Linked DNA regions of Homo sapiens: regions 2 and 3 are each linked to region 1. Evidence: fine-mapped expression QTL. A gene starts in region 1. Each other region holds a variant in brackets. All regions are shown on one strand. Distances are from middle to middle. Region 1 holds the start of TST (thiosulfate sulfurtransferase). Region 2 overlaps TMPRSS6 (transmembrane serine protease 6). Region 3 has its middle 19 kb from the start of NCF4.

What was found. PIP is the estimated chance that this variant, and not a neighbour inherited with it, causes the effect. A credible set is the group of variants that fine-mapping cannot tell apart.
Region 2: its variant is the best candidate, but not a certain one, in a credible set for the expression of TST in whole blood (INTERVAL, PIP 0.64).
Region 3: its variant is the best candidate, but not a certain one, in a credible set for the expression of TST in whole blood (TOPMed, PIP 0.73).

The regions. Positions count from the first base shown.
Region 1 is chr22:37,016,189-37,023,008 of GRCh38, forward strand. TST (thiosulfate sulfurtransferase) reads right to left here and starts at 3,259. Exons shown (of 3, transcript NM_003312.6): 1 at 3,212-3,259; 2 at 1,950-2,565. The coding sequence starts at 2,544. It overlaps MPST (mercaptopyruvate sulfurtransferase), which reads left to right and starts at 3,554. Exons shown (of 3, transcript NM_021126.8): 1 at 3,554-3,684. The coding sequence starts at 3,649. RefSeq lists enhancers at 1,802-2,777, 2,806-3,307 and silencers at 2,781-2,840, 3,001-3,390, 3,421-3,540, 3,551-3,870.
Region 2 is chr22:37,062,329-37,069,148 of GRCh38, forward strand. TMPRSS6 (transmembrane serine protease 6) reads right to left here. Exons shown (of 18, transcript NM_001374504.1): 16 at 6,745-6,820; 17 at 4,498-4,634; 18 at 3,108-3,910. The coding sequence ends at 3,752. KCTD17 (potassium channel tetramerization domain containing 17) reads left to right here. Exons shown (of 9, transcript NM_001282684.2): 9 at 197-1,062. The coding sequence ends at 266. Among named protein-coding and RNA genes, the nearest start is that of KCTD17, 14 kb to the left of the region's middle. RefSeq lists enhancers at 1-84, 937-1,760. The variant C/G (reference allele first, on the strand shown) is at 4,264.
Region 3 is chr22:36,838,162-36,844,981 of GRCh38, forward strand. No RefSeq gene overlaps it. Among named protein-coding and RNA genes, the nearest start is that of NCF4, 19 kb to the right of the region's middle. The variant T/G (reference allele first, on the strand shown) is at 2,987.

The DNA of each region.
Region 1 (6,820 bases):
CCCACCTTGGTCTCCCAAGGTGCTGGGATTACAGGCGTGAGCCACCACGCCCGGCCGCCACTGCTACATTTAAACAAATGCATACTCATGTGGGTAGGGCTGGCGTGACTCTTCTCATTTTATGATAAGGAAACCCAGAGAGGCCAAGCAACTGGACTGAGGTCACTCCAAGGAGGAGTGGCTGAGCTGAAATGAGAATCCATGTTCCCTGATGCTCCTGAGGGAAACTGAAGGAGGTGTGAACACAATTACAGAGGAGGAACTTCAGCATCCCGGGCCTTCAGGAGGCATTACCCACTGCAGGCCATTCTCCTCCTCTGAGCCTCAGTTTCCTCATCTGTAAAATGGGTGAGGACATTGGGCCTGGCACCTCCAAGCTGTCCCTTCCACTTATTTCTTAGGTTGCTTCAGGGCAGGCTGGGAAGCAGCAAGAGAACCAATTCCACTGATCCTCCCCCATGACAGCTTAAATCCCAAGGAGAAGAGGCGTCTTGAACCAAGGCCAGGAGAGGGCTGCAGGCGTTCCCAGCCAGGATTCTCTGGGAGGTGCCAAATGAACTTGAATCTTCAACTCCAGACCTTCAGAGAGCAAGCAGGCAAGAAAAATATGGGGCCTGGAAAAAGCTGCGCTGGAAAGGGCAGAGACCCTGCTGTCCTGGCTCTGTCACTAACTAGCTATGCGGCCTTGGCCCCTGCCTCTGTGCACCTCAGTCTCCCCTCTGTCAGGTGAGGTCACCGTTCAGGCCCTCCAGCTCTAAGAGTGTGCAGAACAGTTTTCCCAGCATTCTCTCTGTAGGAGGTACAGACAGGAAGAGATGTTTTTCAACAAGTCAGGCAAAATGTTGCACACGAGTTAGATTCTGTAGAGAAGGAGCTCTGACTGAGGAAAGAGCCACCAAGGAGGTGCCCAGAGACAAGAGAGGGCCCTGCTCCTGGAAATGGCCAGGCAGGGACTGGAGGGCACTCAGCAGGAGTGATGGCAGCGAGACGGCAGTCCTGCCTCTAGAAAAGGGAAGACCTCCGAGGTTCTGTCTGGCTAGGAGGTTCTAGAACTCAGCATTTCCTCTCCTGAGGCTCTCCCCAACCCTCAAGCAGTATCCAATCCACCTGGCCTTCCCTTCCACAGGAGGGGAACTTCTGAGTCGCCTTCCTGGGGCAACTAGCAGAGGGGACTCCCTCCTGGCCCTGGGAAGTAGGGGTAGGGCAGCATTGGGTGCGTCCTGGTTTATAGCCCTGGTTTGAAACAAGGCAGCATTGGATTCGAATCCTGCCTTCCACCACTTTATGTCCTGGCATCTCAGTCCCCCCACCCCCCGCTGCCAAAACAGGGGCATTGAGCTTTGTTCGCTGAGATAATGCGGTGCCAAGTGTCTGGCATGAAATGGCAGCTGCTGTTACAACTCTGCCGACGGGCTGCAGCTGCCTGGAAAGGTTATGGAACCTTTGCAAACAGCAGGCAGGGGCCCCAGGAGAGCTAGATTTGGGGAGAGGGGGATCCTGCGGGGAGGGACACTGTTGATGTCTATAAGGGTTTCTGCGGGACGAGAGAGGCCTGGAGAAGCTGGATGTGTCCGTGGGAGGTTTCTGTACAGCAATGCAAACGCTGGCTCAGGGGCATGACACCCTTAGGTATATCCTAGTACATGTGGGGCAGCTGGTGCCTGGGAGTGGAGGTGGTGGACATGTCACCAGTGACTTCTGCTCACACAGATGCTAGGTGGCTTCTTAGCACATGGCTATGAGGACACATTCTTGGGTCCTTGTGCATCCAAGCTGAAAAAGCCTTTAGGTTTGTCTCCACTTTCTGGTTTTATCGATGGAAAGACTGAGGCCTACATGGGAGGATTGAAGGCATGGGACGGACCCTGGAGAGGGTCCCAGTCATCCTTACTCCCTATCCTTCCATGGGGCAATACTCCCCAGGGACCACCCAGCACTGGGACACCTACCTACTGCATCCGGCTCCGGCTCGGTGCCCAGGAACCGCCCTTGAGACCTTGAATCCACCAGCTGGAACCTCTTAGATTCAAGGTTCTCCAGCACCTGCTCGTAGGTCTTGAGCAGGGAGCGGTCCAGTGTGGCTTTGAAGACGGCCGGTTCTGGGCGTGAGGGCTCGGATGTCACCGGGTGGCCCTCCTTCAGCCAGTTCCGGAAGCCACCATTGAGCACTGATACGGTGCGGTGGCCAAACACACGGAACATCCACCAGACCCGGGGAGCATAGAAGCTGCCCAGGTGTTCACCATCATACACCACCACGTGCGTGTGGTTGCTGATGCCCAGGCGGCCCACATACTCGGCGAAGCCAGCCTCGCTGGGCAGCATCATCTCGTAGGGCGACGCCGTGTCCCGGCACTCTTCTATGTCAAAGAAAGAGGCGCCGGGTACGTGGCGCTCGAGGTACTCCTTGCGGGCCTCTCGGGTGCCTGGTGAGTACCAGGACGCGTCCAGCACCCGCAGGCCGGGCCCCAGCTTGCCAGTCCTGATGGACTCCGCCAGCCACTTGGTGGAGACCAGCGCCCGGTAGAGCACCTGATGAACCATGGCTTCAGCTCTGCGTGTCACCTGGCACGGGTGGGAACCAGGAAAGAGAGACAGGCGTGAGGAAGGAAGTCGGTGTGTGCAGTAGGGTGAGGCCTGGGAGAAGCTCTTTCTCCCTCCGCACTCCCCCGGGTTCCTTGTTTACAGCAAGCCAGCGAGGCTGGGGCGTGCAGCGGGATAAGTTTGCAGATTCCCTCTGGAAAGCCGGCCCCGCCCCTCCCAGCCGGCCCGGGGGCCCAGCGCAGAAGCGGGTGGGGCAAGAGTTTCCGAGGACTCCAAGTAGGGGCGCTTCCTGGGGCGGGGATCTGGCTCCTAGAAGTTACAGTACTCGATCCCGCCAGGAAAGAGCAATGAAAGCATGCCCGGGATGGGGGGCGATGGCATCTTGGGCTTAGAATCCCCTTTCCTTCCAAGGCAGAGGGGGTGGGCGCACGGCTAGGAAGCTCCGCGAGCCGCGCACACGCCATCGCCTGCGGCCTCCCCAGGCAGCCCGAGCTCGCCCGCCTCCAGAGTGCCCGAGTCCGGCCCGTAGCTCGCTGCCCTCTGCCCTAGGTGGATCAGGGGTTCCCGGGGCACCCCGTCCCACTCTCGCAACGCTATCCTTCCCCGGGCAGCAGGTGGCCCGACCGGCGGCCCAGGCGCCCGGCCGCTGCCCCCGCCCCGCACTCACTCGCCCCGGACGCCGCGCTGGCGCTCGCCCCGGCCGGCTGGAGAAGTTGGCCGGTTCAAACCCCCGGCCGCAGCTCCCCAGGCGGCGCGCACCATCGCGCCACCGCCAGAGGGGGACCCTGCGCCGCCCGCCGCCATCCCGCGCCTCCCCCGCGCGGCCGCTTCGCGCCCGGCACCTGCCAACCTCGCGCGCGGGGCCTCCGGGACCCGCGGGGGTCTGAGGGGGACGCCGGGTGGCGCGGGGGCCGCGCGGGCCTGGGCTGGGCGGAGCGGGCGTACCCCCACGGCCCGGCCAGTGGAAGGCGCGGGCAGCAGCGGCTCCGAGTGGCCGCGGCGGTGGGCTGTGCCGGAGTCTCCTCCCTTTGGTCCGCTGCAGGTTGGTGGCGGGAGGAGGGGACAGCTGCGGGCGCGGGGAGGGGGCGCCGCGCCGCGGGGGCCATGGCGGAGCCAGGAAGCCGGGAGTCCGAGACCCGGGTAACTGCCGCGGCGTGGCGGCTTGCCTTTCTGGAGGGGGAGGGAGTGGCTCTTTGGGGGTGCTCGGCGCGGGGCTCCCGCGCGGGACCTGGGCGGAAGAGGGGGCTTAGTCTAGGAGAGAAGGCGCGCCGCTACGTTGGCACTAAGGGTGACTGTCCGCTTGGGGCGGCCTGCCGGGTGGGGTCGTGGCGAGTGGCGGGTGGGGAGCCTTGGGTGGAAGTGGGTGACCTGGTGGCACCAGAGAGGGCGGGGGAGAGAGAGGAGGACAGGGAGACGAGACCCCGCTGACCCAGAGGCCCCAGGAAGAGACACTAGCCAATAACTTGTTAGTGAGTGAAAGGAACTAACATTGTCCAGCCCTGCTTGGTGTGGCACTTTGCTGGGTACTCCCGTGGTGTGACTTAATTCCCACAATAACCCTGAGGAGTAGGCCAGAAACTTACTAAGACAGGAGAGAGCGGCAGAGCGAGTTGCTGGAGGACACACCCAGAGTTGAGGCCGGGCCTGATCCCTGGTCTGAAGCCCACGTGGTACCAGCTGCCTTTGTTTACCTGGCTCTTCCCTGAAGGTTCATGCTTTTTAAAAAATTGCCTGTTTTGAACTTAGCCCGTTTAATCATAAGTTGATGTAATTCAATTTTTAATAATAGCTGTATTTAACAACCAGTTGGCAAAATTCCTGAAAAGCTCGCCATGGGCTCTTGCAAACTGGGGGACACCATTGCCCCTCCCTAGCTTTTGCAGAGGCCAGCCTGGAAGCTTTCCCTGTTTCCCAACCCTGACCTTTTGTTTTGTTTTGTTTTTTGAGACAGGCTGTGGTTCTGTGGCCCAGACTGGAGTGCAGTGGCGCCATCTCAGCTCACTGCAACCTCCGCCTCCCAGGCTCAAGCGATCCTCCCACCTTAGCCTCCCAAGTAGGTGGGACCACAGGCATGTGCCACCATTCCCGGCTAATTTTTAAATTTTTGGTAGAGATGGGGTTTCACCATGTTGTCCAGGCTGGTCTTGAACTCCTGGGCTCAAGTGATCTGCCCATCTCAGCCTCCCAAAGTGCTGAGATTACAGGCATGAGCCACCATCCCTGGCCTCATCCCTCTTTTTAAAAAAAGGTTTTGTTCTAAAATGCTCACAGCAATCCTCAAAGCCTAGTGTCTGGTGGTTGGGGGAGGGGGTGGGCAGGAGGGACCAGGCTGGGGAGGTCCAAGAGGAGCTCCCAAGCTCTGCTCCTCAAGGGGTACCCTGGATCCAGCCTGCGGCTCACGCTTGCTTCAGTGCAGCTGTGTATCCTTCTGACATGAGCCTGGGGCGGTTACGTCCTGGGGTCCTCCACTCCCAGGGCACCCTCACCTACAGTGATCCCGGCTTCTGAATCACACAGGCACCTGGTTTCTACCCCTCCCTGACACCCACAGCCTGCCTTCACACCCTCCTTTATGGCCCACAGACCTTTGTGAGAAGTGCCAATCAAGCAGGGAGACTGGGGCAGGGTGACCTCAGATCTCTGAAGTCCCACCAAGCCCTGAAATTCTAAGATTTTAGATTTGCTGCTGGCAGTTCCAGGGCCACCAATGAGAGTAATGGAAGAAATAATGCAATATTATTATTATTATTATTATTTTGAGATGGAGTCTCACTCTGTTGCCCAGGCTGGAGTGCAGTGGCGCGATCTCGGCTCACTGTAACCTCTGCCTCCCAGGTTCAAGCGATTCTCCTGCCTCAGCCTCCCGGGTAGCTGGGACTACAGGCTCATGCCACCATGCCCAGCTAATTTTTGTATTTTTAGTAGAGATGAGGTTTCACCATGTTAGTCAGGCTGGTCTTGAACTCTTGACCTCGTTATCCGCCCGCCTTGGCCTCCCGAAGTGCTGGGATTGCAGGTGTGAGCCACCACGCCCGACCTAAACCGTTTTTAATGATTATTAAAACCAGCCAGATGTAATGCATGGTGGTTGCCCCTCTACATTTATTGTTTAATCTTGGCTCTAAGAGGTGGAGGTGAGAAGCTCCATTATAAGGAACAGAAACCACCCAGAGACCCTACACACCCACATCACACAACCAGTTAAGCAGTGGAGTGGGGTTTACATTGATTTGGGGGGCTCTCTGGCTCCTAAACCAGGGCTCTTTCTACTGTAAATGGATGATTGGGTGAGGGAAACAAGGATCCTCAAGAATAGGGGACAGTGTTTGGGGGTGCACAGGGGCTGCTGTGGTTCCCACAATAGGGTTCCTCAGGAAGGAACCTGCAGCATCTGCCAGCACAGCGCCCCCTAGCTGTGCTGTAACGCAGATAATGGGGATCACCCCTTAGCCAAACACCCCTTGGCAGCCTCCCTACCCTAAAGACCGTGCTGAGGCTTCCTGGGCCCCTGGAAAAGTCAGATTAGTCTGGACTTCCTCCTACTCCAGGAAGCCTTCCCACCTCTTCTGCTGCCACCCCAGGCAAACATAGGGGCCCTCTGTGCTCAACACTGAATTCTAAACTATCCTCAATTTCACTCTCTCTTGCCTGCAGCCTGACGTTTCCCCCCAGGGCTTGGCAAAGGCAAGAGTGCCTCGGTGTCCGGCACAAGGCCTGACCGCATGGGTGAAGTAGGTTCCTAAAAGCCAGCTGCGGCCAGACTGTGGGGGTGGGCACAGGGTGTCACCCTAGAACTCATTAGGCCCTGGTCATCATGGCACCTGGGGCAGGGGAAGTCCAGCCTGAGGGGTCAAATTCTGGCTGCAAATCCTGAGGCTGCCTCCTGTGACCACGGGCAAGGCACTTATTCTTCTAATTGCCAGTGGCCTCATTCATAAAGCAGGCGTCCTAATACCCGCCCAAGGCTGCGGTGCCTAGCATGTGACCTGGCCCACAGAGGCACTCGGTCCACAGATGTTGTTCTCTACCTGCCCCCTTCATTTCGCTGGCAGGACTGCATGCAGTGGGTGTCAAGGTTGGGCCTCACACAGGGGATAAGTGAGGGCTGATCTGCAGCCCATACTCCACACACCCAGCCATGTGCCCTGGTGGGGGCTCAGCCTCTGCCTGGCAGAAGGGGCCCTTTCCTCTCACCTGCACAACGGTGGCTTCCCAGCACAAAGGGCTTAAAGTGTTTGGGAAGTTTACACCCAGGAAGGCTGTGGGCTGGCCTGGC
Region 2 (6,820 bases), 46 kb after region 1:
TTCTGAATCCACCTTCTTTGGGCCTCAGCCCCACCCCCTCCTCCAGAAGGAAGCCTGTGACTCAACTGCCTCTCTCTCTCTCCCTCTCCCCCACCCGTCAATCTCCTCTCCGCCCCCTTGCCCTGCATCACCCCCTCCTTACCGGCCCCACCTCCGCCCCTCCCATCCTCCTGCCCTTCCCCTCTTTTTTTTCTAGCTGTTACAAGCCAGAGGCACCCGGATGTGAGGCCCCAGATCACCTCCAGGGACTTGGGGTTCCCATCTGAAATCCTTTATTTTTGTACCATGGGGTGGGCCCCGGGCCTGAGAAGGAAGAAGCACCCTCTCCCCGGCCTCCTCTGTCTGCACCCGTGGGGCTGTGACTTACTCCTGCCTCCAGGGGCGGGGCGGGGCCCCCCTGGGACCTCTTAAGGCCCAAGGTGGGCCCCAGGACCTCTGGGCAGAGTGGACTGCTCATGGCAGATGTGTGGCAATGTCTGGCTGTGTCTCTCCGGCACCTGCGTCCCCTCTCCCGGGCTCCCCTGCTGCATGGTGGATGTGCTCCTTCCTGGCCCGGTCACATTGCCTCCTTGAGCCTTAGTCCAGGGGGTCACTCCTCCCACCCCACCTACCTCACAGGGTTGTTGTGAGGGTGCACAGAGGAGCAAAGTCCCTGAAGGCCCTCAGGCAGTATATAGGGGCCGCCCACCTTCAGCTGCCCTGGGATGGGAAGGACCCAGCCCGACCCCTGGGCATAACACTGTGTTTGCAAATGGAGATTCAGGTATTGGGGATGCAGGTTGTGGGGAGCTGGCCTGGCAGAGTAGGGGTAGTTGGCTTGGCCTTCTCTTTGGTGATCCCACCCCCAGCCATTTGCATTGCTGGCCCAGCGCCTGGCCTGGGGGGCGGGGAGAGGCAGCAGAAGGGGCTGGGCAGGGGCGGTGGAGGACTCAGGAACTGCCCGGGGAGAGTGGGTATGGCGGCTGAGCCAGGGGCCCTCCTGTGTTTGACTTCCCGGGATGGGTCCTTGCTTCTCAGCTGTGTCCGACCCCACCATGTAATAAAACCCAAAGGAACAGCCCAGCCTGGCTGTTGCCCTCTTTCTCTGGGCCACTTTTGGGGACGGGGCTAAACTAAAGGTGTGGTAGTCTGGTCCAAAGGAACGCGGCTTTGTCCCAAAAGCCCAGGGACGCTGCCCTGTTGTCATTTTCCTGTGTGTGTTGCAGGGAGGGCTTGGGGAACTGGCTATATCCTTTGCCCTGGGGCCGGATACCAGAGCACCTGCCCTACCTGGCCGGGAGCCAGAAAACAGAACTCTAGGGAGAGCCCTGGGCTGCCTCTGCCACATCCTAAACCTCTCAGCGCGCCCCCTCCACTTCTACTCTGACACCTGGGCCACCGCCATCCCTCCCTATTGCTGCCACCCCTCTGCCCAAAATCCTAGGAAATATAAACACCCCGCCCTCTCCCTTCTCTGACCCTGCTGGACCCAGCCCAGACCCCAGACCCTCCACCCACCCTGGCCAGTTCCTTCAACTCCTCAGTCCTCCCCGCTGCTCGAGGAAATCCTGCCGGGCAGTGAGCCCCTAAGGCGCAGGCCTTCCACAGGCTGGGGCGGGGGCACCCTCTTGCCAGCTCAAGCCTGGAGGGCCTCGCCACTTCCCCTGAGGACACTCCACTCCAAAGCTGGACTCATTTTTAGGGTCCAACTATCCTTGCAAAAGAGTCACCAGGAGGCTTGTTAGGAGAACAGATGACACGTCCCCCGCCCTCCAGGATTCCGATGAAGACTGAGGTAGGGCCCAGGGTGATTCCAGATCACCCAAGGTATTCTGCATGTGTTCTGCCCACCTGCTCTGGAGACGCTCCCTGCCCACCCAGCTGCTCCGGCTCGTCCTGGCAGGACCCAGGTGGGTGCTCCCCGTCCCTGGTTCCCCTTCTGCCTCATTCACCCACAGACCTGGCAGCAGCGCCCATGTTGGAAAAACCCCTCTTCAGTCTGGGGCCCCTCTGAAGCTCCCTCTCTCCCTTCCGCTCCCAGTTAGGCGTCTAGAAAGAGTTGTCCACACTTGACCGTCCACCCTCACCTCCAGCGAGCCCCCTGCCTCCATCACAACTGCCCCCAGGGGTCTAAAATCATCCTCCAGTCCATCCCATGGCGCTGCTCAGTCCCGGCCCATCCTCTCCATCCTGGAATCCTGCGGTGGCCTCCTAACCAGCCTCCCTGCCTGCCGCTCCCTGCACACTGGTGCCAAGGCTGGTTCCAAAATGTGAATCCTCTCATGTCACTCCTATGCTATAGAGCCCACCGTGGCTCCCCAGAGCTTTCAAGATCAAATCCTTGGCTCAACCCCAGGCTCTGCTATCCCGCCTCAGTTCGCCCCTCTGAATTCTTGAGTCATCCTCTCGAGCTCTGTTCTAACACTCACTCGGCTTGCTGGGTCCTAGCGTGCCTCATTCTTCCGGGACTGTGCCTTTGCACGTGCTCTTCCCTGCCTGGAATATCCTTCCCGGATATTCCCACCTGGACCACCTCTGAACCCCAGCTCAAGTCTCACAGCCTCCAGGCAGCTTGCCTTGACTTGCCCAGTCCACGCTCCCCTCCGGCCCCTTCCCACTGGATCATCCCCACTGCTCCTGGGGTCAGGAGCCAGGTCCTTCACCCCTGTGGCCCCAGCATAGTGCTGGCACATGGTTGGAGCCCAAGGCTTTATTCAGTGGCTCAAAGAATGCAAAGGAAGGGAGTGTCGCACTGGACGGGGCCTTGGCAGACAGGGAGCTGGGAGACAGGAGTCTATGCCACCTCCACTCCTAACCCCCAGTGCCACTATGAGGATGTCTTAACCGCCTCTCTGAGCCTCAGTTTCCTCCTAAGGTTCCAAAAGGAGACGATTGCTCCTCACATCCCTCTGACCTGAGGGTCCCCAAATGATTGCCTTCCTGGCATTTCTTCTGGGACCTGGGCAGCTGCCCTGCAGGCCCCAGCCCTCAGTGGCCACGCCCACTGCCACTGAGCCCACCTTGGCCTTCTGGACACTTGTCAAACAGGCTGAGCAGGAAGCAGGGGCTGCTCCAGTCAAGGGCATGAGGCTGGTGCCTGGGTCCCATTCAAACTCCAGCAGCGGGGCTTGGATCAGGCAGCTTTATTCCAAAGGGCAGCTGAGCTCACCTCCCAGTGAGGGTCTGGGCTGTGAGGGCCCAGGTGGCAGGCAGGGGTGGGGCAAGGACCCTGGAGTCAGGACTTCCCCACCTTTTGGCTTACAGTGGCAGCAGGCCCACCTGGCAGTCTCCAGGGCTCTGAGGGTCCCCTCCGATGGGAGCACCTTCCATTCCCAGATCCCAAGTTAGACCAGGGGCTTCCGAAGCTGGAATCTGCTCTCTGGAGGCAAGGCTGCCCAAACAGCCTCTGTACAGAGTGGGGCGCACCTCAGACACTCCTCGGGATGTAGAACCAGCATTCTTGCTGCTGAGCCACTGCCTTGCATTAGGCAGCAGTGGAGGAAGGGGACGGAGGAGAGAGAATTGGGAGGCAGAAGGGCTGGGTGTGGGCCTGGGTCCTCAGGGGACGTCTTGACCCCCAGCTGCTGGCACTTCTCCATCCTCCTGCCATCACTGGAGCAGACATCAGGGACGAGACAAGATGCCACCTCCTGCCACCACAGGGCCTGCTCTCTCCCCCACCCCCCGCCAGAATACTTGTCCCCCTGCTTGGCAGTTGCCCTGGGCTCTCTGAGTCCAGGAGGTGGGCCCTGCTTTGCAGGGGGGCAGTTCCTCAGGTCACCACTTGCTGGATCCAGCTGATCACACCTGTGATGCGGGTGTAGACGCCGAAGTAGTTAGGCCGGCCACAGCCCAGGCCCCAGCTGACCAGCCCCGCCAGGAACCAGCGGCCACTGAGTGCCTTGCACACCAGCGGACCACCTGAGTCACCCTGAAAGGGGGAAAGGAGAAAGGACTGAAGCAGGGTAAGGGCACCCCCTTTTCCAGGTGAAGAGCCATAGGGATTAAGTCCTGACTGTTGGGAATTGACTGGGTGCCAGAGTCACGTTCAGTCTTAAAGCTCTGCTTTCCCCTCGCCTGCTAAATGGAGAGAGCCCAAGCCAGCCCTCCCCGGCCTCCAGCCAGCCTGGGACCTCCTGGAACTGTGGCTGTGTCCCCACGCCCCCACTCTGCCTCCGCCTCCCTTCTGTGGCTGACACCCCTTTCTTCTTCCATGCATCCACCTCACTGTGGGACCCTGGGCCTAGTGCCTTGTGGTGGGCAAGGAGCAGAACTGGGTTTGAG[C/G]CTAACACCTGCCCATCACAGCATCTCTTCTGATCTGTGGCTCTGCAACCTTGGGCAAGCTCCTCAACCTTTCTAAGCCCCAGTCTCCTCTTCTGTAAAGTAGGGGTGGCCATCACCACCTTGCTGGGAGGATGGGAGGCTTCAGCAGGCTGATGTGAGCAAAGGGCCAGACCCTGGTGATGTGGGCAGCATCCTTTCTCCCTCCTCTCTCCCTCCCATGCCCGGGGGACTCACCTGACAGGCATCCTTCTTGCCCTTGCGGTAGCCGGCACACAGCATGCGTGGCGTCACCTGGTAGCGATAGACCTCGCTGCACAGGTCCTGTGGGATCAACTGCACATCCACTTTCTGCAGAGCGTTGCTGATGGGGCCTGTCCGTGGTCAAGGGCAGAAGTGAGATCTCAGGAGCCTGGAGCCCCTGTTCTCTATTCTCCCTAACATTATTCCCTTTGCATCTCAGGAGCCTACTTCTCTCCTGCTCTGCCCACCCTTACCCCTGCTAGGGTCGCACCTGCCCCTCTGCCTCCCTGTCACTTTATTCTAGCTCTTTCTCTGTGGGGTTCATGGTGACAGCCCCCGACCAAAGCCCATGTGGAGGGCCGGGCACGGTGGCTCATGCCTGTAATCCCAGCACTTTGGGAGGCTGAGGCGGACGGAACACCTGAGGTCAAGAGTTTGAGACCAGCTTGACCAACATGGAGAAACCCTGTCTGTACTAAAAATACAAAATTAGCTGGGTGTGGTGGCACATGCCTGTAATCCCAGTTACTCAGGAGGCTGAGGCAGGAGAACCGCTTGAACCCGGGAGGAGGGGGATCCGAGCCGAGATCGCGCCATTGCACTCCAGCCTGGGCAACAAGAGCGAAACTCTGTCTCAAAAAAACAAAAAAAAGAAAAAAGAAAAAAGCCCGTGTGGATGAGTGTCTTCCTCCAGCTTCTTGTCCCCCACCTCTGTCTGCTGAGGCACCTCTGGGCTCTGGCTGGCTCCTCGCTGCTCTGTTACAGCACCTGCAGATGTCTCCGAAGCCCACATCTGATCCCTTCATGGTTTCCTTAGAACTCTGCAGTGCCCCAACTCTGCAGTCTGCCCTAGCGCTTCTCCACGAGGGCTGCATATCACAGTCCCCCGGGGAGCCTTGATACGCAGTTTTTCTTGAAACTCCCCGTATGGTTCTAAGGTGCAGGTAGGAGGGAGAACTCCTGGCCTAAGATCCTTATGCTGGCCGGCAAGGCCCTGTCTGCCATTCTGGTTGCTCCTCGCCCAAGGCCCTGTCTGCCATTCTGGTTGCTCCTCGCCCAGGCACGCCTGCCCCCCACCTCAGCCCCTCTGGCAGGCTGCGGATGTTCTCACATCTTCCTGTCTTGGCACCTGTGTCTTCACCTGAATGTCTTTCCCCTTTGTCTGAATGTTGCCAACTCATCTTCCAGGCCTCAGCTTAAACAACCCTCCCCTGGAAGCCTCCCCTGACCCTAGCTGGGCAGGAGCCTCCTCTGTGTCTCCACTGTTCCTGCATCTCCCCATCCATGTCAGCTCTTACCACTGTCTGTCTCCCCCGAGAATGTTCTCTCTTCATCCTTATGTACCCTTCCCCTAACCCCACGCCTGGTACGTACTTGGTGCTCAGAAAGTGTCATTGAGTGACTGAATGAGTGAAGGAATAGTGAATGAACCAGCCTTTGCTTTGCCATGACCACTGCCATCCCCTTGGGTAAGTCACTGTTCCTCTGAGCCTCAGTTTCCCCATCCTTAAAATATCTCTGCGGCCCCGCCTGCTTCCAGATTGTAAGTCACTGTACACATTTTTGAAGCCACCAACACTAACGCTGCAGGGCATGTCTGTAGGTTTGCCAGCTGGGTCTGTGTCCCCAAAACTGTGCGGTGGCCGCCAGGGACTCTGGTCAGTGAACGTAGAAAGGGGAGAGACCCTGTTTCTGAGAGCAGTAGCAGGAAGAGCAGGGGCTCTGGAGGCAGCCAGCCCTGGGTTCTAATCTTTGCTCCAGTCCTCTCTGGCTGTGTGACTTACAGCAACATGTCTCTGAGCCTTGGTTTCTCCATCCATAAAATAGGGCCACAGCATCCGCCCGTAGGGCTGTTGGGTGGATTATATGAAGTCAAGTTCCCCTAAAATCCAGCCTGGATGTGGAAAGTGCTAGTAATTAAGAGCCTTCCACCCTTGCAGCCCAAGGAACAGCAGGTGGAGCTTGCACGTGGGCAGTGGCGTCCCAGACCTGCCCCTTTGCCCCACACATAACGCCCTTCCAGAAGGAAGGGAAGAGCTAGGAGGGGAGGGGCAGGGGCCTACAGGCCGCATTAAATGGTGGTTTTCTACCGTAAAATTCAGCCCAATTTGAATCCCAGCACTAGAGGGCCTATGGGGTGGAGCCCCGGGACCCCCAGCCCCGCCCTTCTCCAGGCCAGGTGTTACGGCGCAGATCCGCACGGTCTCCCTCCGCCTCCCGCCGCAAGTCCCCGCTGCTCACCGCCCTCGCGCAAGGCGCCCCAGCCCGTAATCCAGCAGTGCAGGCCGGGCTCGAAGAAGTGGGAGCGCGCGGGCAG
Region 3 (6,820 bases), 180 kb before region 1:
TGGAGCCGACTCTGTGTGTGTGTGGTGTGTGTGTGTGGGGGGGGGGGGTGGTGTGTGTGTGTGTGTGTGTGGGTGGTGTATGTCTGTGTGTTTGTATGTGCGTGTGGGCAGTGTGTGGGGGCAGTGTGTGTGTGTGTGTCTGTGTATGTGTGTGTGTGTGGTGTATGTATGTGTATGTGTGTGTGTGATGTGTGTGTGGGGGGGTGGTGTGTGTGTATGTGTGTGTCTGTGTGTGTGTGGTGTGTGTGTGTCTGTGTGTGTGTGTGTGAGTAAGGTTGTCAAGTTAGCAACTGGTCAGGCTCCTCCTGGGCTGGTCCCTGCCTGTCTTCAACACCACCTGGGTGGTCCCTGCCTGTCTTCAACACCACCTAGGTGGTCCCTGCCTGTCTTCAACACCACCTGGGTGGCGTGTGTGTCTCACGGCTGTTATGCTGCCTGAGCCTGTGTGTGACTGGAGCAGGAGCTGGCATTTCTCCAGCCCCTGTTGTCCGCCAGGTGTTTTGTGATGCTTTCTAATTGTTTCTCCTGGGAGCCTCCTCGCAAGCTGGTGCTGGGCTGCACTTTTGGCCAGCCTCGGTGTGCTGGCCAGTTCAACTCAGGAGCCTTCAGCACTGAGGGCCAGCCCCAGTCTGCGGTGTCTGCCCAGGACGGCCAGTCCCTGCCAATCCGGCAGGTCCTCAGAGGCCAGGCTGAGCAGCTGGGGCCTTGCAGCAGGACACAGGGTCACAGCTGGACCCAAGCAGAGAGCCTGCTGGGCCTGAGTGTCCAGGTGTGAGGGAAGGGCTTCCTCCCTCCAGAGAACAGGGATGCAGGTTCCAGCCAGGTAGACCTTCCTGCTTTGTGAGTGTGTCCAGAGCAGGGAGAGTTTCACCCACAAACCCAATATGTGACAGGAGCAGCATAGGGCATACCCACTCTGCTCACTCAAAGGATCCCCAGGAGCTGCTCTGGGGTGCCTGAATTCTCACCATCACAGGCTGGAGTGCAGTGGTGCTATCTCGGCTCATTGCAACCTCCGCCTCCCAGGTTCAAGCTATTCTCCTGCCTCAGCCTCCTGAGTAGCTGGGACTACAGGCATGCACCACCATGCCCTGCTATTTTTTTTCTTTCTTTTTTTTTTTTTTTTTGGTAGAGACGGGGTTTCATCACGTTGGCCAGGCTGGTCTCAAACTCCTGACCTCAGGGGATCCGCCTGCCTCGGCCTCTCAAAGTGCTAGGATTACAGGCATGAGCCACTGCGCCCGGCCCATCAGTTCTTTTTCACCATCAATCCACGTCTGACCTTTCCTGTGCCTAAGCTGTCATAGAGGGTAAATGCAAACCAAACACACTTCAGATGGAAAACACCTCACCCTTCTCCCAATTCTCAAACCTTGACTCACTTCCCATAGCACATGGAGGAGAATGCTAGCATCTTCCCACAACTCGCTCCACCTCTCCTCCCACCCAGCCCTTCCTCCTTCACTGCTAGTTGCCCTGCTGGTTCTAGAACATGCCTTGGAACCTTCTCCCCCAGATACCTACATGGCTGTGTCTAGGACCTCATTCCAGTCTCTACACAAATGTCACCTCATCAGAGGCCTTCCCCGGCCACCATGTCCGAAGAGACACCCAGCCCTACCCTCACTTCTCTCTCTATCTGCTTCCCTTGCTCCGAGGCTCTCTTGCTGCTCAACTGTGGATTATACATTCATTTGTTCCTCATTTCTCTCTGTCACGAGAAAGAAAACCTCAGGTGTTTCCCCACTGCCACAACAGTGCCTGTCAATAATTGAGCCCTCAGTAAATACCTGTAGAATGAAAGGAAGAATCTTTTCAATGGTGGAAGTAACTCAATACACCCATGGTCCTCCAGTGGCGGGACCCTAGTGCTTCTGAGGGAAGGAAGATGCTGCTGTGGCCAGATTCCAGGAGGGAAGGGAGAGCATGACCCCCAGCCCTCAGGACAGATGGGGCGTGGCTGCTCCCACCATGGCTCACTGAAGTGCATCTGATACACCGTGTTTGCCACTCCAAAGTTTAATTTAGCTGATGTCTTGGCTGTGAGCAACAGCTGGTAAATTTAGTTGGGGGATTAAGAAACGTATAAGATGCATAGCTCCTTAAAAGGAGCTGGATGTCAGGGGAAAACGAAAGCCAGGTGCATCCTGAATTTGGCTGTGAAAGGCGGGGCAGCCACCTTCTTGGAGCAGGCCAAGGGGCTGTGTTTGCTGAATCTTCTGAGGGGCGGCATCTCCACATGGAGGTGGCGGAGGGCGAGCCTGGGGACACATCCAGTGGCTGCCATGTCACCTAGCCACCCAGGAAATTCCTTCAACCTGCTGGCAAGGATAGGGACAGCTCTGAAGACATGAGTCTGCCCAGAAACCATAAACAAATAGATTGACAAACATTACTGTAGCAAATTAAAACTTGTGTGAGAGTTAAAAAAAAATGCCATGGACCAAGTTCAAAGCAAACAACAAAATGGCCAAATAATACTTTCAGACAAGTGCTAGAAAAAAGACCAATGCTGTTGATTTACAAATAGCTCATAATCAATAAGAAAAAGATGAACAGTCCAATAGAAAGGAGGGTCCTAAGGCACAGACAGGAGGCCAATAATACAAATGCAAAATACAAAAGGCCAATAAATGTATGAAAATATACTCAGCCTCCTCTGCCATCAGAGAAATACAAACCAAAATCAGAGACTTTTTTAACTTATCAGATGGTCAAAAATGTTTAAGTACAGTTGTATTCAGTGATGGCAATGAATTAAGAAAATGTAAATTTCTATTTTAGGAGGGAAATTTTGAGATTTCCATCCAAATTAAAAATGCACATGTGGCTGGGCATGGTGGCTCACGCCTGTAATCCGAGCACTTTGGGAGGCCAAGGTGGGTGGATCCCTTGAGGTCAGGAGTTCAAGACCAGCCTGGCCAACATGGCGAAACCCCATCTGTACTAAAAATTCAAAAATTAGCCGGGCATAGTAGCAGGTGCC[T/G]GTAATCCCAGCTACTTGGGAGGCTGAGGCAGGAGAATTGCTTGAACCTGGGAGGCCGAGGTTGCAGTGAGCTAACACCACTGCACCCACAGTCCAGCCTAGGTGAAAGAGCAAGACTCCATCTAAAAAAAAAAAAACAAAAGAAAAAGCTGCACATGCCCTTTGTTCCAGCAATTCCACCACTAGGAGGTAAGCCTCCAAATATTCTTTTATTTTTAATGTATTATATGACTTTATTATATGAATAAATGTATGAATAGTCTCCCAAATGAATGTTCATTTCAAAATACAAGCACACCTCCTTTGATTGGGTTCTGCTTTGTTGCACTTTGCAGATATTGGATTTTTCACAAATTGAAGTTTTGTGGCAACCTTGCACCCAGGAAGTCTATCGGTGCCATTTTTCCAAGAACGTGTGCTCACTTCATGTCTCCGTGCCACATTTTAGTAATTCTTGCAATATTTTCAGCTTTTTCATTATTATGATATCTGTTATGGTGGTCTGTGATCAGTGATCATTGATGTTACTATTGTAATTGCTTTGGGGCTCCATGAGCCATGACTATGTAAGATGGCAAACTTAATCGATACATGTTGTGTGTGTTCTCACTGCTCCATGGAATGGCCATTCCCTCTCTCTCTCTCTATTCCCTGAGACACAAAGGTATTAAAATTATGCCAGTTAATAAGCCTACAATGGCCTCTAAGTGTTTAAATGAAATGAAAAGTCCTGTCTCTTACTTTAAATCAAAAGCTAGAAATGGTTCAACTTAGTGAGAAAGGTATGCCAAAAGCTGAGATAGGCCAAAAGATGGGCACCAGACAGTTAGATCAGTTGTGAATGCAAAGGAAAAGTTCTTGAAGGAAATTAAAAGTTCTACTCCAGTGAGCGCACGAATGATAAGAAAGTGAAACAACCTTATTGATGATATGGAGAAAGTTTGAGTGGTCTTGATAGAAAGTCAAACCAGCCACAACATTCCCTTAAGCCAGAGCCTGATCCAGAGCAAGGCCCTACTTGTCTTCAATTCTGTGAAGGCTGAGAGAGGTGAGCAAGCTTCAGAAAGAAGCTTGAAGGTAGCAGAGGTTAATGCATGAGGTTTAAGGAAAGAAGCTGTCTCCATAACATAAAAGTGCAAGGTGAAGCAGCAGGTGCTGATGGAGAAGCTGCAGCAAGTTATCCAGAAGATCTGGCTAAGGTCATTGATGAAGGTGGCCACACTAAGTAAGATATTTTCCATGTGGATGAAACAGCCCTCTGTTGGAAGAAGATACCATCTAGGACTTTCATAGCTAGACAGGTGAAGGCAATGCCTGTTTTCAAAGCTTCAAAGGACAGGGTGACTCTATTGTTACGGGCTAATGCAGCTGGTGACTTTAAGTTGAAGCCAGTGCGCATTTACCATTCTGAAAATTCTAGGGCCCTTAAGAATGATGCTAAATCTACTCTGCCTGTGCTCTATAAATGGAAAAATAAAGCCTGGATGCAGTACATCGGTTTACAGCATGGTTTGCTGATCATTTAAACCCACTATTGAGACCTATTGCTCAGAAAAAAAGATTCGCTTGAAAATATTACTGCTTATTGATAATGTACCTGGTTACCCAAGGGCTCCGATGGAGTACAAGGAGATTAATGTCGTTTTCATGCCTGCTAACACAACCATTCTGCAGCCCATGAATCAAGGAGTAATTTCAACTTTCAAGTCTTATTATTTAAGAAACACATTTTATAAGGCTACAGCTTCCATAAACAGTGATTCCTCTGATGGAGGTGGACAAAATAAATTGAAAACCTTCTGGAAACGACTCATTGTTCTAAATGCCACTCAACATATTTTTGATTCATGGGAGGAGGTCACAATATCAACATTATCAGGAGTTTGGAAGAAGTTGATTCCAACCCTCATAGACGACTTTGAGGAGTTCAAGACTTCAGTGGAAGAAGGAACTGCAGATGTGGTAGAAATAGCAAGAGAACTAGAATTAGAAGTAGAGTCTGAAGATATGACTGCATTGCTGCAATCTCATGATCAAACCTGAATGGATGAGAAGTTGCTTTTTTATGGATGATCAAAGAAAGTGGTTTCTTGAGATGAAATCTACTCCTGTGAAGATGCTGTGAATATTATTGCAATGACAACAAAGGATTTAGAATATTCCATTAACTTTGTCGATAAAGCAGCAGCAGGGTTTGAGAGGACTGATTCCAATTTTGAAAGAAGTTCTACTGTGGGCAGAATGCTATCAAAGAGCGTCACGTGCTACAGAGAAATCTTTCTTCCAAACTCCTGTTAATGTTGATATTTTGTCTTGCTTGGTGATGGTGATGATGATGGCAATGATCATGGTGGTGATGATGATGATGGTGGTGGTGGTGATGAGGATGGCAATGGTGGTATTGATTATGGTGACGATAGAGGAGGAGGAAAAAGACCAGGGGCAGAGGAGGGACCAACACAAGAGAAGAATGAGAAGGAGGGGAAAAAAGGAAAGACCAACTGGAAGCTAGGATTGCCAGGCACTTTAGAGTCATAAGCTGATTCAATTCTTCTAATTATGCCATGAGACACAGAGTAGCCATCCCCCATCTGAATTTTATGATTGAGGAAACAGAGGTCAATGTTGTGAGTCGTCTGAGGTCTCCCAACATACAATAGTAGAGCCAACATTTGAACATTCAGCTCTGAAGATGTCTTTCTAGTTCCATGCCTTCTCACAGCGCCTAGCACAGTGTTTGGTACGTAGTAGTGCTCTTAGAATTTATTTCTAGAGGAGTTTGTATCTCAAAATTAGGCTTTGGGAGTTGCCGCAAGGTTTGTGGCCCATTTCTTTGGGAGTCCCCAGAGTGTGTTGGTTATTAAGCTGTCATCTCATATAAACCCCCGATCCACCCTCCCCCGTTCAGCTCCCAGTCTAAGGCTGGGATTCTGCAAACCCATTTCCGCACTGCCAGCTCCCTCCTGTTAGGCCCTGGCACTGGTGGGTGCTAGAGGGAGCCTGTGAGGCTGGAGGAGAAGAGCCTCGTGCTTTCCTTCCCACTTGCCCATCCGCTGAGCATCCCCTCAGCTTCACTTATTCACCCCAGCACTGGTCCCTCACCCTGGCAGCAGCACTTAGTTACCCCCTCTAGTTTTTTCTAGAACCCTCCAAATCAGCCCCATCACACTCCCTCAAGATCTGAGGGTCAGCTGGCCAGTGTTCCCTCCTCAGCCATCCACATCCCAGCTTGTGCAGTCTCTTTTTGGAATTTCCGGGTTCTGTTCACCACCACCTCTCCCCTTTGTTCTGACAGCCCTGGGGGCAAAGTTCCTTCCTGAAGTTACTATCTCTAGGCATCTCACTTAAGTCCCCCATTGCCTTTTCAGGCCCAGAGACCTGTCTAACCAATTCCCTATAGTAAATTCCCTCTGTTAAAGTAACTGGTGTGTGTGCTTTCTGGTTTTGACTGGGTCTTGACTGATGCATGAGGTCAATTTGATTTGGGACAGTAACCATCCTTCAGATCCCACTCTTGGGGAGAAAGAGGGACAAGACAGAGAGAGAGAGAGAGAGAATGAATCAGACTAACACCATTTTGCATCAAAAATAAGGCTTGCCCATGAATAAATAAATGGATTTTACAACTTACTTAGCCATCTCTTTCCTGTTGGTTTTTGCTTCCTACTTTTACAACCCTGACAGGCAAGGCTGTGAGTGCAATGAAGCGAAGTCCTCGGAGTCTGGATTTGACCCCTTTCAGCACTTCTACTCTGGTCTCAAGGACCAGAGAGGGGAACTGCTATCCCTTTAATGTTCTGGCCCAACCAGGGCCACAAACTCCTTCCTGGATTT